Linked DNA regions of Homo sapiens. The protein of the gene in region 3 interacts with the protein of the main gene of each other region in a pairwise test. Each region holds a gene or a part of one and is shown on either strand. Other genes may lie near its edges.

Evidence for each region.
Region 1: the proteins of L3MBTL3 (region 3) and RHOBTB3 interact in binary tests that used the Homo sapiens proteins (3 or more experiments, as listed by UniProt).
Region 2: the proteins of L3MBTL3 (region 3) and THRA interact in binary tests that used the Homo sapiens proteins (3 or more experiments, as listed by UniProt).

What each region holds. Positions count from the first base shown.
Region 1 is NC_000005.10:95,755,318-95,762,343, reverse strand, and holds part of RHOBTB3 (rho-related BTB domain-containing protein 3), read right to left. Parts: intron 6,949-7,026; coding exon 6,583-6,948; intron 1-6,582. UniProt on the Homo sapiens protein: Rab9-regulated ATPase required for endosome to Golgi transport. Involved in transport vesicle docking at the Golgi complex, possibly by participating in release M6PRBP1/TIP47 from vesicles to permit their efficient docking and fusion at the Golgi.
Region 2 is NC_000017.11:40,072,947-40,079,972, reverse strand, and holds part of THRA (thyroid hormone receptor alpha), read right to left. Parts: exon of another isoform or gene 6,305-7,026; intron 5,782-6,304; 5' UTR 5,485-5,781; coding exon 5,432-5,484; intron 3,103-5,431; coding exon 3,035-3,102; intron 2,466-3,034; coding exon 2,365-2,465; intron 1-2,364.
Region 3 is NC_000006.12:130,014,335-130,021,587, reverse strand, and holds the start of L3MBTL3 (lethal(3)malignant brain tumor-like protein 3), read right to left. Parts: upstream 3,008-7,253; 5' UTR 2,924-3,007; exon of another isoform or gene 2,844-2,923; intron 2,788-2,843; exon of another isoform or gene 2,634-2,787; intron 2,529-2,633; exon of another isoform or gene 2,351-2,528; intron 2,268-2,350; exon of another isoform or gene 2,125-2,267; intron 1,945-2,124; exon of another isoform or gene 1,875-1,944; intron 1,324-1,874; exon of another isoform or gene 920-1,323; intron 862-919; exon of another isoform or gene 1-861. UniProt on the Homo sapiens protein: Is a negative regulator of Notch target genes expression, required for RBPJ-mediated transcriptional repression. It recruits KDM1A to Notch-responsive elements and promotes KDM1A-mediated H3K4me demethylation.

The DNA.
Region 1 (7,026 bases), on a different chromosome or scaffold from region 3:
AACCAAATCCAATTGGAAGGGGCAGATTGCAAGTCCAGAAGCTCTCAGGCTCTTACAGCTGAGCCCTGCAGCACTAAGCACTAATGCATATCCTTTCAACTTCTCCCCACCTGGCCTTCCTAATACTTACAGTGTCTCCTGGGGGAGGGAGTCAAATGATATGTAGCATTTGCCATTTTTTGATGCTATCAACATGACATCACAGAACAAGGAAATGGGGATGATAAACACAACTGGGCTCTCACAAGCTGGTGCCAGCTCCAGCACACCACTGCTTCTTTCTGCCTTTGCTAGCTCTTTTTATGCTTTCACTGATTGCTCCCCTTCCTCCTCAAATTCTCAAAGCTGTGTAGTGTAGAAGAGCTCTATGATTTCTGTTTTTCTCTTTCTGCATGAATGCTTTTTAACTGTGTGGCCACATCCTCTTTTCCCATCTCATAAATTCTTGGGATTGTATGACCAGAAAATTTCATGTGCACACAAACATTAAAGTCAGTATAACAATGTGAGAGTGTAAGAACCCCTTAGAAGCCAATGGATCCCAGATCAATAAAATTACTCTATGCCAGTGATTATCAACCATACCTGTGTATTATAAATACCTGAGATCTTTTATAAAATACCATGAGAGGAGGTCTCATCTCCAGATCAAGTGAATTAGAATTTCTGGGCCTGAAGCCCCTGGCATCAGTGTTTTAAAATTCTCCCTGGTGACCCTAATGTGCATGGTATGCTGCTGACGGCCACTGCTTTCCCTTTAGAAATTTCAACCACTGAGTTCGAGACCAGCCTGGCCAACATGGGGAAACCCTATCTCTACTAAAAATACAAAAATTAGCTGGGCATGGTGGCGTCTGCCTGTAATCCCAGCTACCTGGGAGGCTGAGGCAGGAGAATCGCTTGAACCCAGGAGGCGGAGATTTCAGTGAGCCATGATCATGCCACTGCACTCCAGCCTGAGTGACAGAGTGAGACCCTGTCTCAAAAAAAAAAAAAAAAAAAAAGAGGAAAAAGGAAAGAAATTTCAGCCATTATCCAAACCCAGTGTTAGTGGTATGCAGGAAAGGGAACATGTAAGTATTTTTTATGTCTGCACTCATCCAATCTAAAGAAGAACATAAGTACTGTCTCTGTGTTCTTTTACATACTTATATATGTAAAAGTTACATTGTTATTTAAGTAAAAGCATATTAACTAAAAAACACCTATAAAATATCTCCATTCAGAAGATTATCTAAAAGCAAGCAAGCATCAAATAATCTAAATAGATGGAATCAGTAGCAGGTAAATCCCCACAGGCCACTGAACTGTCTGAGAACACACACAGGAAGAATCACTCACTGAAAATGAAAGTAAGACTAATTCTCAAGAGCACACTGCTGATTGGGCTGTTTTCATAATTAGAAACATTAATCAAGTCATCTTTGAGACTTTTAGGTCCTAATAAACCAGTAATCCTAAGGCTGGGACTTTCCTTTTATTTTTCCAGTGGTAAAAACATTTAACATCAGATTTACCCTCTTAGAAAACTTTAAGTATATAATGCGATATCATTAACAATAGGCACAATGTCATACAGCAGGTCTCCAGAACTTACTCATCTTGCATAACTTTACTGATTGATCAACTGCAGACAAGGGCAGGATGACATCTTGCATCACTGACTGGGATTTTCTTTAGTTAACTTCTTAAAGCACTGAATCCACTTAGACTTTTAGAGCGCATGGTATACTCATGTATACTAGGCTGTGTTTTTATGCAATACAGAAAAGGACATGCCACGGAATGATTCTAAGAACTGGAGAATGTAAACTGAAGATGAAAGCTTGCTTCCACATATTTGTCTACTCAGATGGCATTTCAATAAGTGATGTGAAACTCTAAGGGCCATCTGTGGCAGGAAGAGCTCAAAGCTAAATTCTTGAGGTTCTTACAAATACTTCACTTCCTAACCATCTGAGATCATATGACTCAAGAATGTGCAACCATAACACTGTATCAAGTATTATAAGAATGTTACAATTGTATGCCATGTAAGAATTACTCCCTGAAGACCAGGAAAGGGCTGGCTTCACTTATCACATTACTCCTCGTTCCTTAGGATTAGTAGTTAAGTACTTATACATTATGCAGTGTTTGTTGTTATTCAATAGAAAACTAACGTATACAAAACAGATATACCTTGACTGTGTCTACTGAATCAAAAATTTGAATAGGAATAGATAGGTGTAAAATGTTAACCGGACTGTTGTTAAACAGGTCGCTCCTAAATAACGAACCAAATGTTCATGGTGACATAACACACACCAAATTTCAAATTCCTAAAGGTTAAAAAAAGCATGTTATTTAAAAAGAATTAAGATATTCTTTGTAATCTGGTTCTTTAAAAAAAAAAAAAACAAGGACAGGAGATAGGCTTATTATAACTCTCTAGCCCGTGTTTGCTCAAGGCAAATATTCCTGAGCACATGATGGAGTTCAACCTCTGCTTTACCAACCCATCTGATGGGAACACAAACAAACAACTCCTGTCTTCAATGGTTCTCTAGCATAACCCAAGGGCAGACCACAGCACTTCTGTGGGAAAACCACTGCATAACTGTGCCTTAACACTTGTATTCTATTCACAGGTTTAAAAATGTTAAAACAAAAACAAAACAAAACAAGCCTGGCCCATTTACTGAAGTCTCTGAGAAAAACGTAGGTTTAAAATTTTTGTTTGATTTGATTACAAAATACATTTTTTCAAAAACAGTGTCACTTATTCATACACAAACAAATGACTAGAGGATCAAACAAAGCAATAAATGTTTAAACATTTTCTGTTGATAGTGGAATCTGGGTAAATTTTTTTCTCTTAATTTTCAGCATTTTTCAAAATTGTCTTTTCTGTGCAAATACAGCTTTGATATCTCTTTTTAACATAATGTAAATGAAACTTTTCCTTGAGCCAGAGGTTGTAATCTGTAAATAATTAAAGAATAATAAATAGATACCTGCAGAACCAGTTATTTTCCCTTTTCCTTAACCAGCATCTGGATCTCTGCAGCCCCGGGTCAATGGCCCGTGCCCCTGCTCAGACCAGACAGCACCTCCGGCTTTGGCCGTGACGTACAAGGAGAGATCACAGCCGAAATGGGACGGGTCAGTGTCAGGTTAAGAAGCCAGGACTCTGAACTGGTTGAAGACCTGTAGCTCAGCAGGCTCTCCACACCATCATGCCTGCCTGCCCTCCGATCCCTATTCCAGGCTTACTTAATTTCCACCCAACCACTAGGCATCCATTTTTCCTCGCGTCAGGGACACACAGGGCACTGAGAGCCCCAGTTCTGAATAGCACTGCATCAGTCAGCCTTACAGCTCACCCCATTTTTACTTTGAATCCTAAGCTGTTAACTTGGTAGCCTTCCTGGGCCTCTGCACTGAATTCTAGGCCCTAGTTTGCTGGTTTTGGCTGGTTCCCAGTTCTTCCAAAAGCAGGTATTCCAGCTGCTTCTGGCAGTCCAGAGATCCAGCACCACCTCGGAGACTACTGGAAATGCAGAATCTCATGCCCCACTCCAGGTAACTGAATCAGAATCTCCACAGGAACAAGATCCTCAGATGATCTGCACACACTTTAAGGTTTGAAAAGCACTGGTCTAGACGATGAAGGGCCAATGGCAGGGCCACCCACTGTCTGAATGTTGGCCTTCCTGAGGCTGATCGCCAGAGTAATGGGACCTCCTGATTGAATGCCTGTCTTGGCCGCACTGTTCCACCCTGCAACCACAACCAGAGATGAGCTTTCTAAAGCCCAGTCTGATCATGCTTAAAACTCTAGCACAAGTCTAAGAGCAGCAGGAACAGCTTCCACAGGCCTTGCCCACCTCATCACCCACCAGCCATCACCTTTCACTCTACGCTCCAGCCATGGGAAACGGCCTGTGATCCCTGGAAAGCAGCAGATACCTAGGATTACACTTTTATTAATCAAATGTCCCCAGAATATTAATCTCTTTCAAACAGTATCAGAATGAGTGCATAAAAAAATTACAACAGGTAAATGACTCCGGGGAAAGGGTCTAGGGTAGAAGGATAACTTTTTTCTTTTCTTTCTCTTTTTTTCCATCTGCCTGTATTAATTTTGCAATTAAATAAAGCACTCCCCCTAGGAGAAAGCTAGGCAGGATCAGCCACTGGAGATACATCTAGCTATTTTACTGCTACTATGTTAAAAAGGATATAAGACGTCAGAGTGCTCATATGCCTTTGAAAGTAGTCAATAATAATTGTGGAAGCCTACTGAATAATTCATGTAATTTCAACAGAAAATTATCATACAAAAGTCACATCCCTCACAGTTCCTTAAACATATGATTAAAAACATCTTTTTTCTCTTAACATGTAAACATGTTAGTTTTTCAAAATCTTAAATTCTGAACTGTGACATTCTAAGTTTAAACGTCAAAATCTATAGTACTAAATGAAGTCTTTAAATAGTTTGGCTTACTGATATGATGATGCCCGGCTACTGGAGCCTACTCTTTAATTCAACTAAAACTTACAGAGAACCCGTTGAAGGCAATGTGCTGGGTGTGTGCTGTACAGGTGCTTAATTTATGCTTTTTCCAAGCCAATATTTCACTAACCTAGCACCACATTCTACTCCAATATGTATTTTTTATCCACATAAATCTGCGTGCTGCAACTGTACTTTTCAAAATCATAATTTAAGTTTTAACTTATAAAATTACATGACCACAAACCACATGAACAAAGTAATACCTTATTTTTAACATCAATTACTTAAATAAAGGCTGCCCCAAATTTCCCTACCTGTATGAAATGATACTTGCCTTGCAAACCTTAAACTTTTTGTCTGTTCCCAATTAGGCTTTACTTGAACCCTAAAAACAAATTAATTATAAATGTTTCTCCAGACACACTGCAGAGCAGGAGTGACCTTAGCCTAACAGGTTATCGCTACATGATTTGAAGTGGGTAAAGAAAATTAAAGACAGGAGTTCTGAGAAAACTTATATTTAGATGCTTACATTAAAATTCATTTTACATCTGTTCTTTTCCACTCTTACATGGGACACTTAGATGTAAGACCTTCAATTCATTTGCTAAAATGACTCAGATAGAACTTCCATCTTTAAAATATAGTTGCTACTGAGTTTTTAAAAGGGCAAAGAGAAAAATACTTGATAAGCTAAATCTTAAAAAGAAAGGGCACAGTAAGGAAAAAAAAAAGTAACGTCTATGATAGTCATAGCCAAAGTTAATTAGACCTCAACTAACACTGGATATTGATTTCCAGTCCGTAAGCTGAATGCAATTCTCTCTTTCACGCCCTACAAAACCTAAGAGTCAAACCGAAGAGTGAATAGCTAGGTTTTAAGGTGTAGACACTTGATTTCATTTACTCTTGGAATATTTTATGTCTTTAAAACTAAATTGGACAATAAATTCTCACATTTCATATTTTGGATGTTTTTTAAAGAAATAAAATATTAACATACTTGTTTGGCAGATTATGGTTTTTACAAGTAGATTTAAAACCAAGGCAAATACAAAAACATATGAAAAGATGCTTGATATCACTAATCATTAGGGAAATGCAAATCAATACCAGAATTAGATACCACATCAAACCCATTAAGATGGCTACTATTAAAAAAAATAAACAGCAAGTGTTGGCAAGGATGTGGAGAAATTGGAACCCTTGTGCACAGTTTGTAGGCACATAAAGTGGTATAGCTAGTGTGGAAAACAGTATGGCAGTAAAAAATCAAAAACAGAATTACCATGTGATCCAGCAATTCCACTTCTGTGTATATATGCAAAAAATAAAATAAAAGCAGAGTCTCAAAAGAGATATTTGTACACTATGTTCACAGCAGCATTACTCACAATAGCTAAAACAGTGGAAGCAACCCAAGCGTCCATGGATGAATGAATGGGTAAACAAAATGTGGTCTATATGTACTACAGAATATTATCAACCTTAAAAGGAAGAAAATCCTGATACATGCCACAACTTGGATGAACCTTTAAGACATTATGCTAAGTAAAATACATCAATCACAAAATGACAAATACTGTATGATTCCACTTACATGAGGCACTTAGGAGAGTTAAAATCACAGAGACAGAAAGTAGAATGGTGGCTGTCAGGGGCTGGAAAGAGGTCGGAATGGGGAATCATCGTTTAATGGGTATAGAGTTTCAGTTTTATAAGATGCAAAGAATTATGGACACGGATGGTGGTGATAGTTACACAACATTATGAATGTGTTTAATTCCACTGAACTGTGTTCTTAAAAATGGTTAAGATGGTAAAATTTATGTTCTATGTATTTTACCACAATAAAATGAAATTGATAGGGAAAAGATGAGGCAAGTACATTTGTAAGGAAAACAGAAAGCTTGGACCAATTCTTATATATAAAGCAAATAATATTTCATGTATAATCTTAATCTCAGATGGTAGGTAAAGACCACTGTAAAACTAACCAGTACCCTTGAGTGTCACAGGCACATTTCATTTCCAAAGCTTATGAGATTGTAAGTAACCAGAACCACTTGACAAGATACCTGAATAAATGAAGCGAAGGATGTCTGATAAACAAGAACAGAAGAGGGCGTCTTTAACAATGACTCGTAATGGTGGGTTGCCTGAAGATTCATGGCTAGCACCTGGAAATGCAGTATCTCTGTTTATAGCAAAAAGATCCTGGGTAGTTCGGATGATACTGGAATCCTGAATGTCAGTGGGACTCTTCACATTGAAAAGCAGCATGAAAACATGGCTTACAGCGCAGAGAACGATCTTGTGGGCCTCTACAACTTTCTTTAAATTGGGGTTGTAAAATACCACGTCCACACACTGGCAGCAGAACAGCAAGTTATTTAAGTCAGAGTTATAATGTGACGCTTCAGCCTTTAAGACAGGCATTTTTTCTGTTTTGAAAAAGAAAATAAAAATAATAAACTCCTTTCAGGTTTACAGACCCAACAATTTCATGTTTACTTTAAATA
Region 2 (7,026 bases), on a different chromosome or scaffold from region 3:
GCCTCAGCCTCCCAAGTAGGTGGGATTACAGGCGTACATCACTACACCTGGCCAATTTTGGTATTTTTAGTAGAGACAGGCTTTTACCATGTTGGCCAGGATGGTCTCAAATTCCTGACCTTACTCATTCGTTCATTTGCTCATTCATAATCCCTCCTCTGTCACTCACAAGAAAATTGCCTAACTTCTCTGAGTCTCAGTTTCTTCATCTATAAAATGGGGATAATCATTTTATCTACCTTATAGCACTGTTGGGAGAATTAAATGAGACAATTCACTTGAAGTGTTTAAAACAGTGCCACCGGGTGTGGTAACCTCAGGTGATCTGCCTGCCTTGGACTCCCAAAGTGCTGGGATTTAAATAATTCTGTTTCTTGGAAGGCCTTGCATTTTTAGGAGGTGATCCTGGAAAGGCTATCCAGGCTGAAATGATCAAAGTGAAATCTAATTAGGCCTCTTAAGCACTTTGGGATGCAGAGGCAGGCAGATCACCTGAGGTCAGGAGTTCGAGACCAGCCTGGCTAACATGGTGAAACCCTATCTCTACTAAAAATACAAAAATTAGCCAGGCTTGGTGGCAGGTGTCTGTAATCCCAGCTACCAATGCTGAAGCAGGGAGAATTGCTTGAACCCGAGAGGTGGAGGTTGCAGTGAGCCAAGATTGCACCACTGCACTCCAGGCTGGGCAACAGAGCGAGACTCCATCTCAAAAAAAACAAAACAAAACAATTAGGCCTCCCAAAATCTATGACCTTGTCATCCCCTCTGCCTGGAAGAACCTGCTGTCCTCTTCTCCTCTGTGCTCCCAGCTCCCACTACCCCCCCAGTACTGGCTCTCGCTCTTTCAGGTGCATGGGAAACACTCCGGGATTCTGTTAAAAGGAAGATTCCTGGGCTCCACAAAAGGGCTCTGAGTGAGCAGGGTTAAGATGAAGCCTGGGCAGGCTGGGCGCAGTGGCTCACACCTGTAACCCCAGCACTTTGGGAGGCCAAGGCGGGCGGATCACGAGGTCAAGAGATCAAGACCATCCTGGTCAACATGGTGAAACCCTGTCTCTATTAAAAATATAAAAGTTAGCTGGGCGTGGTGGCAGGTGCCTGTAGTCCCAGCCACTCAGGAGGCTGAAGCAGGAGAATCGCTTGAACCCGGGAGGCGAAGGTTGCAGTGAGCCGAGATCACACCATTGCACTCCAACCTGGGCAACAGAGCGAGATGCCATCTCAAAAAAAAAAAAAAAAAAAAAAGATGAAGGCTGGGAATCTGCATTTTAACTAGTAGGACAGGTGGTCCATGAACCACATTTTGAATAACACTGATGTTTGTTTCAAGTTGTGTCTCTCTCTCTGACAGGCTGTGAGCAGCTTGAAGGCGAGGTACGTACTACACTCTCACACCTAAGAATACACTGAATGAATGGGTGATGGCTGGCATTTATCAAATGCTTCTTATGCACATGGCACTATTTTTTATTTTATTTTATTATTTTACTTTGAGACAGAATCTTGCTCTGTCACCCAGGCCGGAGTGCAGTGGCGCCACCACCGTTCAATGCAGCCCTGACCTTCTGGGTTCAAGCAGTCTCCCACCTCAGCCTCCTGAGTAGCTGGGACCACAGGCATGTGGCACCACACCCAGCTAATTTCTTTAATTTTGTAGAGACAGTGTCTCACTGTGTTAGCTAGGCTGGTCTCAAACTCCTGGGATCAAGGGATGCTCCCGCCTTGGCCTCCCTCCCAAAGGGCTGGGATTTTAGGCATGAGCCACAGCACCCAATGGCACTGTTTTAAACACTTCAAGTGAACTATCTCCCAACATATTTAATTCTCCCAACAATGCTATAAGGTAGAGAGAATGATTATCCTCATTTTATAGATGAAGAAACTGAAACTAAGGCTCGAAGAAGTTAGGCAATTTTCCTGTGAGTGGCAGAGGAGGAGTTATGAATGAGTAAATGAATGAATAAGAGAAGAGAAGAGAAAGTAACCAGGCAGGTATGCCTGTAATCCCAGCACTTCAGGAGGCTGAGACGGGTGGTCACCTGAGGTCAGGAGTTCGAGACCAGCCTGGCCACATAGTGAAACCCCGTCTCTACTAAAAATACAAAAAAACTAGCTGGGTGTGGAGGTGCATACCTGTAATCCCAGCTACTCAGGAGGCCGAGGTAGGGGAATCACTTGAACCTGAAGGCGGAGGTTGCAGTGAGCCATGATCGCGCCACTGCACTCCAGCCTGGGGGACAAGAGTGAGACTCCGTCTCAAAGAAAAAAAAAAAAAGTGATGACCTAACAGGCGGGCTTTAGGTGACATAGGGAGTAATATGGGGGCTCAGGTGGCAGGGGAGGGGCAGGAGGTAGCTTCCATACCTTGCAGCCCTCACAAGTGATACAGCGGTAGTGATAACCAGTTGCCTTGTCCCCACACACGACACACTGCTCGTCTTTGTCCAGGTAACTAGGGATATACCCTGGGAGGAAGGAAAGGATGGAGGAAGGCAGGCATGGCTTGGAGTCCCAGCAGAGAGGCTCTCACACTTTTCCCCATCCCTCAACTTTTTGTTTCTGACCCCTCTCCTAGCCCAGCCTCCCTGGTAGAATCCTAGAGAGACACGAGGTGAACCTGTCCATCTCTGCCCTAAGAGTATGAAGAATCTCAGTTCTTCTGACTGCCCATTCAGGGCTTTCTTCTTGATCTATCTACAAGGCAGAGGATGGTGGAGAGGGAAAAATAAACGTCAGCTGCTCACTGGGGATAATACAGCCCCTCAGTCCTTCAGCTCAGGCCCTGATTCTGGTAGGGCCTCAGATGAGGGTATTAGGGGAAGAGGGAAGAGGCCGTCCTGACCTAATCCACCCTCAAAAGCTGGGCACATCCCACATTACCTTTCTCACCCCCAGACAAGTCCATCCCAAGCCCTCTAGGAGGCTCCCCCCAGGGAACACATGAATTACTGTTCCACATCCAGGTCCAGAGGAGCCCTGGCTGGGTTTGGTGGGGTTGGGGACGTGGAGAAGGGGCACGCACAGCCAGCCTCACCTGACATGCTGGTTTTCAGGGAACATTGGCCGTTCTTTCTTTTTCGCTTTCCATCTGGTGACCTGGCACTGGATGGAGGCAAAGTGGGCAGAATCACAGAGCAGTCTTCGAGTAGCCCCTTTCTCATCCGAGAGGCTTATGCAATCCCCCAAGGCCTGATTCTTTCCATTTTGTGTCCTCATTCTACCTCCCACCCCCCAGGGTCAGCTGACAATGCTTAAAAGGGTCCAGTTATCTGGAAGTTGCAGGGGAGAGAGATAAGGGGCTTGGCTGTGGCACAAGCATATTCTAGAGCCCCAACACACACACATTCACCCGCCAGAAGACCTGAAGCACCCATAATCTGCAGGACATCCTCATCTTTCAGTACATGACGAATACGCTGGAAGAATTCTCAGGATATGCTTAAAGCTATGTAGCCTTTAGAACACACACATACATATGCAACATAACACCGGCACAGATGAATAACCATGCAACCTTCACTATAAACCCATGGATGGTGAGTATGCACCAGGGCCAACATACCTGTGAAATTTTCAGGGCATTCTTAAATGTGCTATACAACCTCTAGGATATGCCCATGTGTTACACAACACTCTGCACAGGCACCTCATAAAACCACCCTCATCCCTCCAGTGTGCACGTGTTGCTTGAGCTCCAGGTCATACACACATGCTAAATAACCCACAGCAATAGAAAACACTACACCCTCTGCACAGCCTCCATTTAACAGAGCAGCAAACTGAGACCCTGCTTGTGCCTGGTGACACCATGAGCTAGAGTCAGAGCCGGGACTGAGCCCCTCTGTGCAGCGTATTATTAGCAACCCTCAGCCACTGCACATATATGTTGCCAGGCTCTCCACATACATGTTGCATAACCTCGGTGCACACAGGTTACATAAGCCCTCTACATGCATGCAAGGATTGTATAACCTCCCGCACCCACCCTGCGTGTGGCATGTTGCAGGCCCCTTCCTCCTGGAGCCGGATGCAGCTCCCAACACACTGACACAGTGACCTTGGCCAGGGTCACAGTCACAGACAACCCTATGCTCCACGCCCCGTGGGGATTACTCCGGTCTACTTCCTATGAGGCTGAAAGGTCAGGTCTCCCTCACGCCTCCCAGAGGGTTGGGTGCAGGGGAACTCAGCCCACCTAGGCCCCAGTTGAGCTAGCGGCTTCAGCAGTTACCACCAGACTCACAGCCTCTGAGTGTAGTCCTAGAGATAGCCACAAGGTGGCGCATAGACATGGGGGAGGGGAAGGTGATGGGGGAGGGGTTGCAGTCTTAGGAGACTGGGAACTGGCATTCCTGCCTTTCTCCAAACATTAAGCACAGACTCTTCCAGACCCACAGAAGCCTAAGCTGGGAGACACAGGGGCTGCAAGTGACAGCCACACAGCGACAGGCCAGATCGTCCTCAGAGTCCTTCCTGGGGTGAGGCTTTGGGGGAGGGGAGCTACCCCATGCCCTGCCCAGCTGTGAGTTCCATCTACTTCCTCTACCCTCCAGGGACCCAGTTGTGGGCCTTAGGGCTTTGCCTGGCCAGGCCTCTGGCTTCCTGGCTCGGGATCTGATCTCCTAGGCAACAGTCAGCCACACTGCTCCCCGGAGCACCCCCACCCCCACCCTCTCCCTGGCCATAGGCACAGGCTGTACCCAGCTCCCAGGGCACCGTGCCAACTGGGACAAAGCTCTGTGCCACTTGGAGCTGATAGAAAAGACAGAGACCCTCTGGGCTCCTCAAGGGCAATGCAGATCACAGGTAACCATCCCTTGGTGTATGTGCAGGGCTGACACCTCACCCATGTGGAAGCAAAACCATCATGGTTGGCGTGCACTTTCTGGGAGGAGCCCCATCGCAGTGCCCGCCCTTGACCATGAACAAGGAAGAGCTTGTGGGGCTCCCAATAGATTCCGAATATAAGCTTGGGCTATGACCAATAGTTACTGGTGCATGTGCCCTGAAATGTATTACGTGAACCGCAGCTTGTGGACAACACACTTGTGGTCAGATAGTAAATGGGCTGGTAGGGAGAGGAAGAAAATGGCAAGGCTGTTTGGATCCCACATGCTCAAGGTAAGGGCAGCAATGGTGGAAGGGACGTTGGGGGCATCTGAGACTGCCCAGCAATGTCTAGGGAAGAGCCCCTTATGTGCTCCCTGTAATTGCTCTGTATCGCTCCCCGCTTCAAAATGAGCATCTCTCAATCCAAGTGCCTGTCACATCTGAACATGACTTCATCTGCCAGACAAAGGTAGGCAGAAGGCTTGCTGGCCTCACGTCCATCCCACAGAGGTGCTTAAAGGCGGTGCCTAAAGGAGAGCTCAGCCAGGTGCCCATGCCTGCTGCTTAGGAGTTGGCATGACCTAGTTGCTGAACCCATTACCTGTTCTCCTCTGGGTCTGACCCACACTCCACCTTGCTTGGCTTCTGTTCCATTCACTTCAATTCCATCCAGGATGCCCTCCAGCACGCCAAGAGACTGGGGTGGGCACACTGGCCCCCCCGGCACACCCACAGGCCACCCACCCCCTGCCACCCAGGCCCTAGGGCACAGCACCCATGATACCCGCCTCAGCACTTGGCCTTTCACACCATGCCCTGCGCCCCAAGGGGGGCGGGCGGTGGGAGGGGCCAGGGAGTGGCAGGTGGGAGGGCTGGGGGCAAGCTGGGTTTGTGGGTCCCGGGCTGTGTGCTGGGGGAGTAGCTTCGGAGTCTTGTCCTGTCCAGAGATCCCTGTGGAGAGAAGAGAGAGGCAGGGGTAAGAAGGTGTCACGGTAGGAAGGTGGGTAGGATCCCTTTGGTGGCAACATTTGGGGCTTTGGGATCCCATAACAAGACAGCAGGGGGCAGGAAGGGCAGGCATAGAGAGGGGACCAGGATGATCCCTTAGATAACAGGTACAGCAGGCGAGATTGGAGATCCACCTCCTAAGCCCCAGACATGGGAAGGAATGGAGGGAGAGAATGAGATCATTCATGTACTAAGTAATATGTCTCAGTCTTCATATTCAGACAAATGCCTGGCCCTTAATGAGCAACTATTAAACACTAGCTATTGTTACCACCCCTCTAGAAAAGCTTTCCTGAAACTCATCTGTATTATAGGGGCAAGAGGGGACCAGAGACAAGCAGTTTTCAGCATAGGCAGGGAGGGTATCTGTGAAGGAAGGATGGGACATAGAGCGGCACGCAGTGAGCATGAATGCCCATCTTTGTGCCTTAATAGAGAGAGATGTTGAAAGCTGTAGGGAACTGACCTCCCATGCTGCCAGCCAAGTTATGATCCCCAACTCTGGCCCCTCAGGGACTCCAGAGCTTCCCACGCAAGGTCTCGAATCCCACTTCCCAGGCAGAGGACCAGACTTCTCAGTTGGTTTAGCTGAGCTGCTATCGACCAGGATGGCAAGGGGGAAAGGAAAGGAAACTAACACATATTAACTGGAGAGAGAATCTGTACCCTCCAAAGAGGGCACGAGAACTTCACAGATGAGGAAACTGAGTCTCAGAAAGCTTGGTCATTCACTCAAGTTCACACAACTAGTAAGCAGGTGGCTGTGGGATAAGCCTCACAGCCTGGCCCTAATGCTAGCCTTGTTCTGCTACCTGGAGTCCAGGGCAGTGCCAAGCCGGGCCCACCATTCCTACGGCATTGCACCTCTGACCCTGGGCTGCAGACCTGTGGCTTACTGTCTGTGTGCACACAGGCAGGTGTGGCGGGTAGGAGGGGGACAAAGGGTACAGCTCCCCAACATACGACCTCAACCTCTGTCACGTGGCTGCTGCATAGGAGACCTCACCCCTAGGCCCCCTGGCCCCACCCCCAGGAGCTGATAAGCAGCCAGGGTGGGAAGAGAGAGGGAGATAAGTCAGGGGATTGGGCAGGGCCAGCAGCAGAACGGGGCCTCTGCACCCAGGCAAGCTGGTAGTGTGGAGAGCATGGGCATTGCACAGAAAAGTGGCCCGTTCTACCTCTGATACC
Region 3 (7,253 bases):
TTCAAAATAAAGTCATCAGCTGAGACTCGTTAATTAAAAATTGATCAGAGGTACAGACACCGATAAATGCAAAAGCAAACAATTGTTTCCAATTCAGGGAGCGATCAATCTCAAATCTCTGAATAAAAGCAAAGTGTCTTTCCCATATAACTCATGTCGGATGGAAGTTACAGGGTCTGAGTCCTCAGAATTCATTGCTTCGATTTACTAAACTTTCAATTTCTGATCAGCATCCTTTCACACAACATCTGGCTGCTCGCTCAGGTCCTCTAATTACTTCCACGTCTGAACGGACTACGTAGCTACGAGTAAAGGCCAAACTTTGCTCTCGGCCTTCCGAACTTAAAAGACGCGTTCAACCACTAGAGGTCTCCCCTTGGCCAGTTTTGCACGTTCGCTATTTTGCTGCACTTGAAACTTTCCGGAGAAATGCTCTCTACTCGAGTCAGTGTTTTTCTAAAAACTTGCGCAAAAATCCACGCGACCGAGATAGCCAGCATAGAGCCTCTCGGACTCCCTAAACCAATAAAGACATCACAAACAACGCTCTAGGAAAACCAAAAGGAGAACTGGACGCACTCGCCCCGGCCGCGCCCCCCCACCCCAAATTCTTATTTCTCATCTCAGTTTCCCCTAACCTAACAATTAAAAATCTATTTTTGTTTCTGTGCACTCTGAATGATCTCGAATGCATTTTTCTGGCGGTGGCCCCGAGGTGGAGAAGCGGGCCAAGGGATGCGAGGCGTTGGGGGTGGGGGCGGTGAGGGGGAGGGCCGTGCTCACAGCGCCCGAGGAAGTTGCCTAAGGAAAGGGACTCCGTTTTTCGGGTCCCCTCAAAAAATCGGCGGGGAGGGGGAGGAAAAGGAAGCGGGGTGGTGGCAGCAGGGGGACTCAGAAGGGAAACCGAAGCAACGTTTACCTCCGTCTCCCGTGGAAGGGTGGGGTAGAGCCGCGGTCCCCGCGCCCTGGAAAGCGGCTAGTTACCCCCACCTCCCTCTGAGCGCGACGGACAGACCGACGCCCCCAGCCCTCCGCGGGGACCCGGGAGGAACACGCCCGCTTTTAAACTTTCTCTCACGGTCGCGCTGCGGGCTGTGCTTTGACCGGGACTGGGGGAGGGGGGAATCGCAGGGCCTTTTTTTCTTTAAAGGTAATTAAAGTTTTACCACCAGTCCAAAAGTTGCGCCCTCCCCCCGCCCGTGCCACCGTGCCCTCCTCCCCTTCCAGGGCTCTCAAGTTTTTCTCCCCGCCCGGCGGCCCCCACACTCCACCAGCTCGCGGGGCGCGCGGCGGATGCCTCGGCTCCTGCGCTTCCCGATCCCCACCCCCGCCGGCCTCTACTTCCCCCCGCCCCGCCGCCGCGGCGCGAGGACGGCCCGCGGGGCCCAGGACGCGAGTGTGCAAAGCCCATTATTCCGGAACCGCACACACACGCGGCGCGAGGCGGGCGGTGGCCCCGGCGCCGGCCCCGGCCCCGACCCCTCTTTTCCTCCCCAGAATAAGGCAGGCGTAAACAAGTTGCAGGAAAAGCAGCCCCGCGCCGCCCCCACCCTCCCCCCACAAGCCCGCCGCCCCGGCGCGGCCGCCGCCGCCGCGACCGCCGCCGCCGCCTCCCGACACACGCCCGCGCCCGCGCCCGCACCCGGGCCGGCGCGGCGCGGCACGGCGCGGGGCGAACGCCGCGACGGCGCGGGCTCCCGGCCCGGCCCGCGGCCCGCGCCCTCTCCCGCGCGGACGGCCGCCGCGGGCCCGCGCCGCCTCGCTTCCCAAAGCACTTTCCTGCCTCGGGCAGAAATAAACCGGAGGGTTTATTTTTGTGCAACTTTCCCAAAATGGCGGAAATTGGAGCTGATCTATATGAAATTCTCACACACTCGGTTGGGAAGAGGGAGGCGGCGAGGAAGCCACGCAAACTCTCGGCCGCCGAGCCCCGCCGCGGGTCCGTGTGTGTGCGTGCGTGTGAGTGTGCGTGTGCGCGGTGGGAGTCGGGCAGGCCTTTCCGCCGCGCACACACACAGCACACGCCGGGGAGACGCGCCTGCACATTCAACCAGTCCATTCTCCGCAGCCCGAAAGGGGAGAAAGTGGCCCGGCCTCTTTTCCCACTGCCTCGGTCTCCCGTACTTGTACTTCTCGCGCTCGCCCGCCCGCTCGCTCGCTCTCCGGTGCGCGCCCGGCACAAAGGCCACACGGGCGGAGGGGGCCGCAGGGGCGGCGCGCGGGGCTCGCGCCTCCCGCCGCACCGATCCGCGGCCCCGGCCGCCCCCGCGCCCCCCGCCGGCGCCCCCCGCCTCGGCGGCCGCGCTCGCCGCCTGGGCTGCGGCTCCGCGGCGCCCACCCGGACACGCACCCCGGTGGAGCCCGGCGCCGCCGCGCTCCCCCACCCCGCGCCCGGTGTCACGAAAGCGACCAAAGTGACAAGCTCGGGGGGCGCGGGGGAGGGGGCCACACGCATCCCGCCGCCTGCGCGCCAGCCTGAGCCCAACGCGGCCGCCTCGCCCCGGCTCCCTTCCGCACGGCCCCCCACACCCTTCCCCGTGTGCGCGCAAAGAAAAAAATACAAGTCTCTCCTCCCCCCATTTTTTCCTTTCTCTTTTCTCTCTCTTTTGTTCCTCTTTCACACTCGCACTCACTACTTCAGAGTGAGATGCCCAGAGACTCCCCCTCCAGCCGTTTCCGAGTCACTTGCCCACTTTTTTCCCCGGGATTAAGTTTTCTCCTCTTTCCCAGAGGCGCAGAGAAGTGGGGGAGAAACCCCTTCTGTCCCTCCCCTCCCCTGATCTGTTTCACAAGACGAGGGTGCGCTTCCTTCCCTCTATAGGGCTCTTAACTTTCATCCTCACCCAGAAAAATAAATGAATGGCTTTTGCACGGACAAATCTTCAGATTAATTAGAGATTAGATCCGATCAACCGCTTCTTACCCCCAAATTTTCTCTTTTTTTTTTCTCCGTCTCACGAGTAGTCCTGACAAATGGTCCAGGGCTGCGGGCGCAATGCGCATGTGCGCGTAGAGTCAGGGCTGGGGAGAGGGGAAACTGCGCTGGTGCCGGTGCCGCCGCCGCCGCCGCCGCTGCCGGGGAGGCTCGCTCTGGCTTCCCTGTTACTGCTGCTGCGCCTTCGCCGCTGGAAAGCAGCAATAAAGCCGGGTGGCAAATGCAGCTGCCCGCAGATCCTGTTTCAGGTGCATCTTTTCAATAGCCCGGTCACCGCCTCAGAGCTGGTTCAAGAACAGTCCAAACAAATAGGAAACACTGCTAAGGTTCCAGATTTCTTTGTCTATTTTTCACTTTACTTTTTTTAAAGGCAATTCTCAGAGCAGCGAATCCACCATGTGCTGTGAAATGTATGCATTCAGCCATTAAAGAGTGGGCCTTAGTCTTGCACAAACACTGCCCAAAGGCTAAATACATGCTACAGGTCATGAAAAGTAACAAAGTTGTAAGCTTTGGGAGAGTACAATCTCCCTCTCTTTGATGGCTGGAACAATGCATAATAAAGAAAGTGTGCATATAAAACTTGTGCCTTCTTTCCGCTTCCTAAGTGCGGATCTTTATTGACAGCTCCAACATGTTAGGCCTCTGTCGAGTAATAGGCTGAGATTCCTACAGTAACTTAGAACACTGTGAAAGTCCCTTGGCAATAAGCAGGTCCAGGACTACCCTCTTAAGGTATTCAGTCAAGATGGCTGAGCGGTCCTAAATGGCAAAACCTGTCTTTGTTAAAGCGTCAAAACTAGATCAAGAGAGTATTACATTTCAGTATTGACAGCTTTCGGCGCATTGACTGCGGGCCGCCGTTTGGACAGCTTCACTGGTCTTTTCCACTTAATAGGAGTACTTACAAAATAATTCGAGTAATTAAAGTTTTGATAAACATTTTGATGTCAATAGCAGAGTTTGCTGTGTGAAAAAAAAAAGCATGTGTGATTTTAGGAATGAGGGAAGCATGTCTTAGATTTTGCGGGGGGGGGGAGGTAAAAGGAAGTTCCCATCCCCAGAGTAGACTATTTTGCATCTAATAAAGGGTAAAGGAGGCCCTTTTCTGAAACTGCTGCCTGAGGCCTAGAATTTAAATATATCACAGATGGAAGTTCTATATTAAAAATCCTTCTCCAGTGTAGGGAATATTATTCTTGATTGAATTTTTTCACTTAAGGAATGTTTCTTGAACCAGTTTCAGAACATAAACTCTTAAATTCTTTCCTTAGGACCATGAAATTACCCTATAGAAGCAGACCACCCGATATATCTAATGTTGGTGTAGTGACCAAATTCTCCAAACCAAAAATCAGGCCATATGCCTTAACATGTACTCCAGAACAAACGGACAAATCCTGTGAAGCTGAAATGAACTTATAAAATGCTTCATACGTTGAACAGCCGTTGGCTGAGGGGTGTGAAGTAGAGAAGGCTGGGTAGTGAGAGCTGTAGATGATCTCAAACCACCAGTTCACTATTGATTTCACCCACCACATTCAACCCTTTTCAGAGCTGTTCCCAAACAGCTTAATTAACTGATCTGAATTTCAGCTTCTCTCCTTTTCTCTCTAGCCCTTGAATAATAAGCAGTGAAATGGCCAAAGGCAAACTGCAGGAGAAGGAAAGAAAGGGCATGAGCTATGTACAAAACTAAGACCTTGCCCCCATGGAAACTAAATTAATTTTAGATTCCTCTTTCTGAAAAATCAATTTTAGATTCCTTCTCTCAAGATAATTTCTAGATGATATTTCTGTTGTACTTATGTTTTCAGTGATACTGGTTCAACAGTCTATAAATGTGTATTAATGGCCTACCTGTGCTAAGTGCTCTGCAAGGTGCTGGGGATAAACAGGTGACCAAAACTAGGCCCCAGCTACAAGAAATTCAGCCTGGTGGAGAGACAGTGTAGTAAATTGGGCATTATGTTACAGTAATGTTATATGGAAAATGTTATAGCAGAGGTATGTAGAGCAAACACAGTTGAGCACCAGTGGCAATAAGGAAAGGCTTTACATTAGAAGTGATGGCTAAGCTGATTCTTGAAGGACAAACATCCAGGGTACATGATGCCATTCTTCTTCCCAGAAGGTGTCTGGGAACATGAACCAATCAGAGAAGTCCTGAGTAAAGGTCCGAGTGTTTCAAGAGCAAGGCTTGCCTAGAAAGTGTACTGACAGAGGTTCACTAACAGAAATAAGGATGACTTGAGGCTCTCTATGATACACTCTTTCTCCTCCGGAGATCATTATTAAAACCTCATCTCAATTTTTCTCAAGATGTGGTTCAGGATAGTAAAGATTTTGAAAGTACTCACTTGTAGGAATAATGACTTTAAAGGCTGCTGTCAAAGTTTTCTACAAAGAATCCTTTGGTGCCACTATCTAAAACAGAGGTAAAATACATTATTAGAAGCTAGGTAACATGATTTTATTCTTCGCATAAATGTGTACTATTTACCAGACCTTTCTCCGTCTGTTCACTAAATAGTAATATACTAGCAGAGGCTTCTTTGCCATCCCTTCCACCTTCCACCATTCACTCACTTGTTAATGATTCATGATGAATGCCTTCTTTCCGGCATCACTTAATCTCATCATCCTCTACCACTCTCCCACCTTCCCATCCCACCCTCCTCCACCCTGCCACATGTAAATACCAAATCCATGCTTCAGGTTCAGGTCTATAACTTCCCTGACGTCCCACACTCAGCTATGAGCTCACTCCTTTATTTTTCTTTATATTTATTTGTTTATATCCAAACTTGTCCACCCCAAAATGATTTCAGGTTACTACATTCCCAAATATTCTGAAGCTAAAGTCATTTTACATAGAAAATGTTTTAAACAAATCACTGTACTCACTCTCCAGAGAATTTTTGAAGCCTCTCATCACCCCATCCCCCACCCTCATGGATGTCATTCAAAACTTCTCACTGTACTCCATCCTGGAATGTCGATGCTGCATGCACTTCATTTTAGAAATCTTAGCTACTGCAGGATGTGGTGGCTCACGCCTGTAATCCCAGCACTTCAGGAGGCCTAGGTAGATGGATCATCTGAGGTCAGGCGTTCGAGACCAGCCCAGCCAACATGGTGAAACCCCGTCTCTACTAAAGATACAAAATTATCTGGGCATGGTGGTGCATGCCTACAATCCCAGCTACTTGGGAGGCTGAGGCAAGAGAATCACTTGAACCCAAGAGGCAGAGGTTGCAGTAAGCCGAGATTGCACCATTGCATTCCAGCCTGGGCAACAAGAGCGAAACTCTGTCTCAAAACAAACAAACAAACAAACAAAAATGCTTAGCACCCTTTTCCTAACACTATGCTTGTCCTGCATTGATAAGACAGGCCCCTCATGTCCTGGAAAAATTCAAGGATTACATTTTCCATGAGCCAGCCCTTCACAAATTGAAAGTGCCCAGGAGTGAAGTCCAAGAGACTGGTGTTCTAATCCAGTTCTGCTACCACCACTGGGAACCATTAGCCATGTCACCTCACGTTTTAGGAGCTTCAGTTCTCTCCCTACTTAGATAAAGTAAACAGAGTAATTGATTTTTTCCCTTTTTTTTCCTTTTAATTGGCCCTGCTTCCTGAAGTTTTTGTTGTTGTGTTTTGGAGGCAGTGGCTTGCTCTGTCACCTGGGCTGGAGTTTAATGGCGCAATCACAGCTCACTGCAGCCTCGACTTCCCAAGCTCAAATGATCTTCCCACCTCAGCCTCCCAAGTAGCTAGGACTACAGGAGCATGCCACCATGCCTGGCTGATGTTTTTTATGTTTTGTAGAGATGGAGATCTCGTTATGTTGCCCTGGTGGTTTCAAACTCCTGAGCTCAAGTGATCCTCCTGCCTCGGCCTCCCAAAGTGCTGGAATTACAGGAATAAGCCACTGCGCTCAGTCTGATTTCTGAAGTCTCCTTGAAAGCCATGTATCTCCCTACTCCTTCTCACATAACAGCAACACAATCATATTTTAGTACAAATAATATGGAACCGAGAAAGGGATTTTTAAGTAAAGAGTAAAGGCTCATCCAATAGGTATCATAATGTTATCAATGAATAGCTCATTCAGCTTGGCTTAAGCCTGGTACTAATGAGATGGAGGTCATGGGTTTCATTCCCTAATGGCTAGTTAGTTTTGATCTGTTTCATAGCCACAGACTGCTTTCCTAACCCCGGTCCCCCATGTTACAATGTGTGCTATTGGTCACAAGTCTTAAGGTAAAATTGAACCTTTCTATAGAAATTTTCTAAAAGAACAATTCTTGAAATC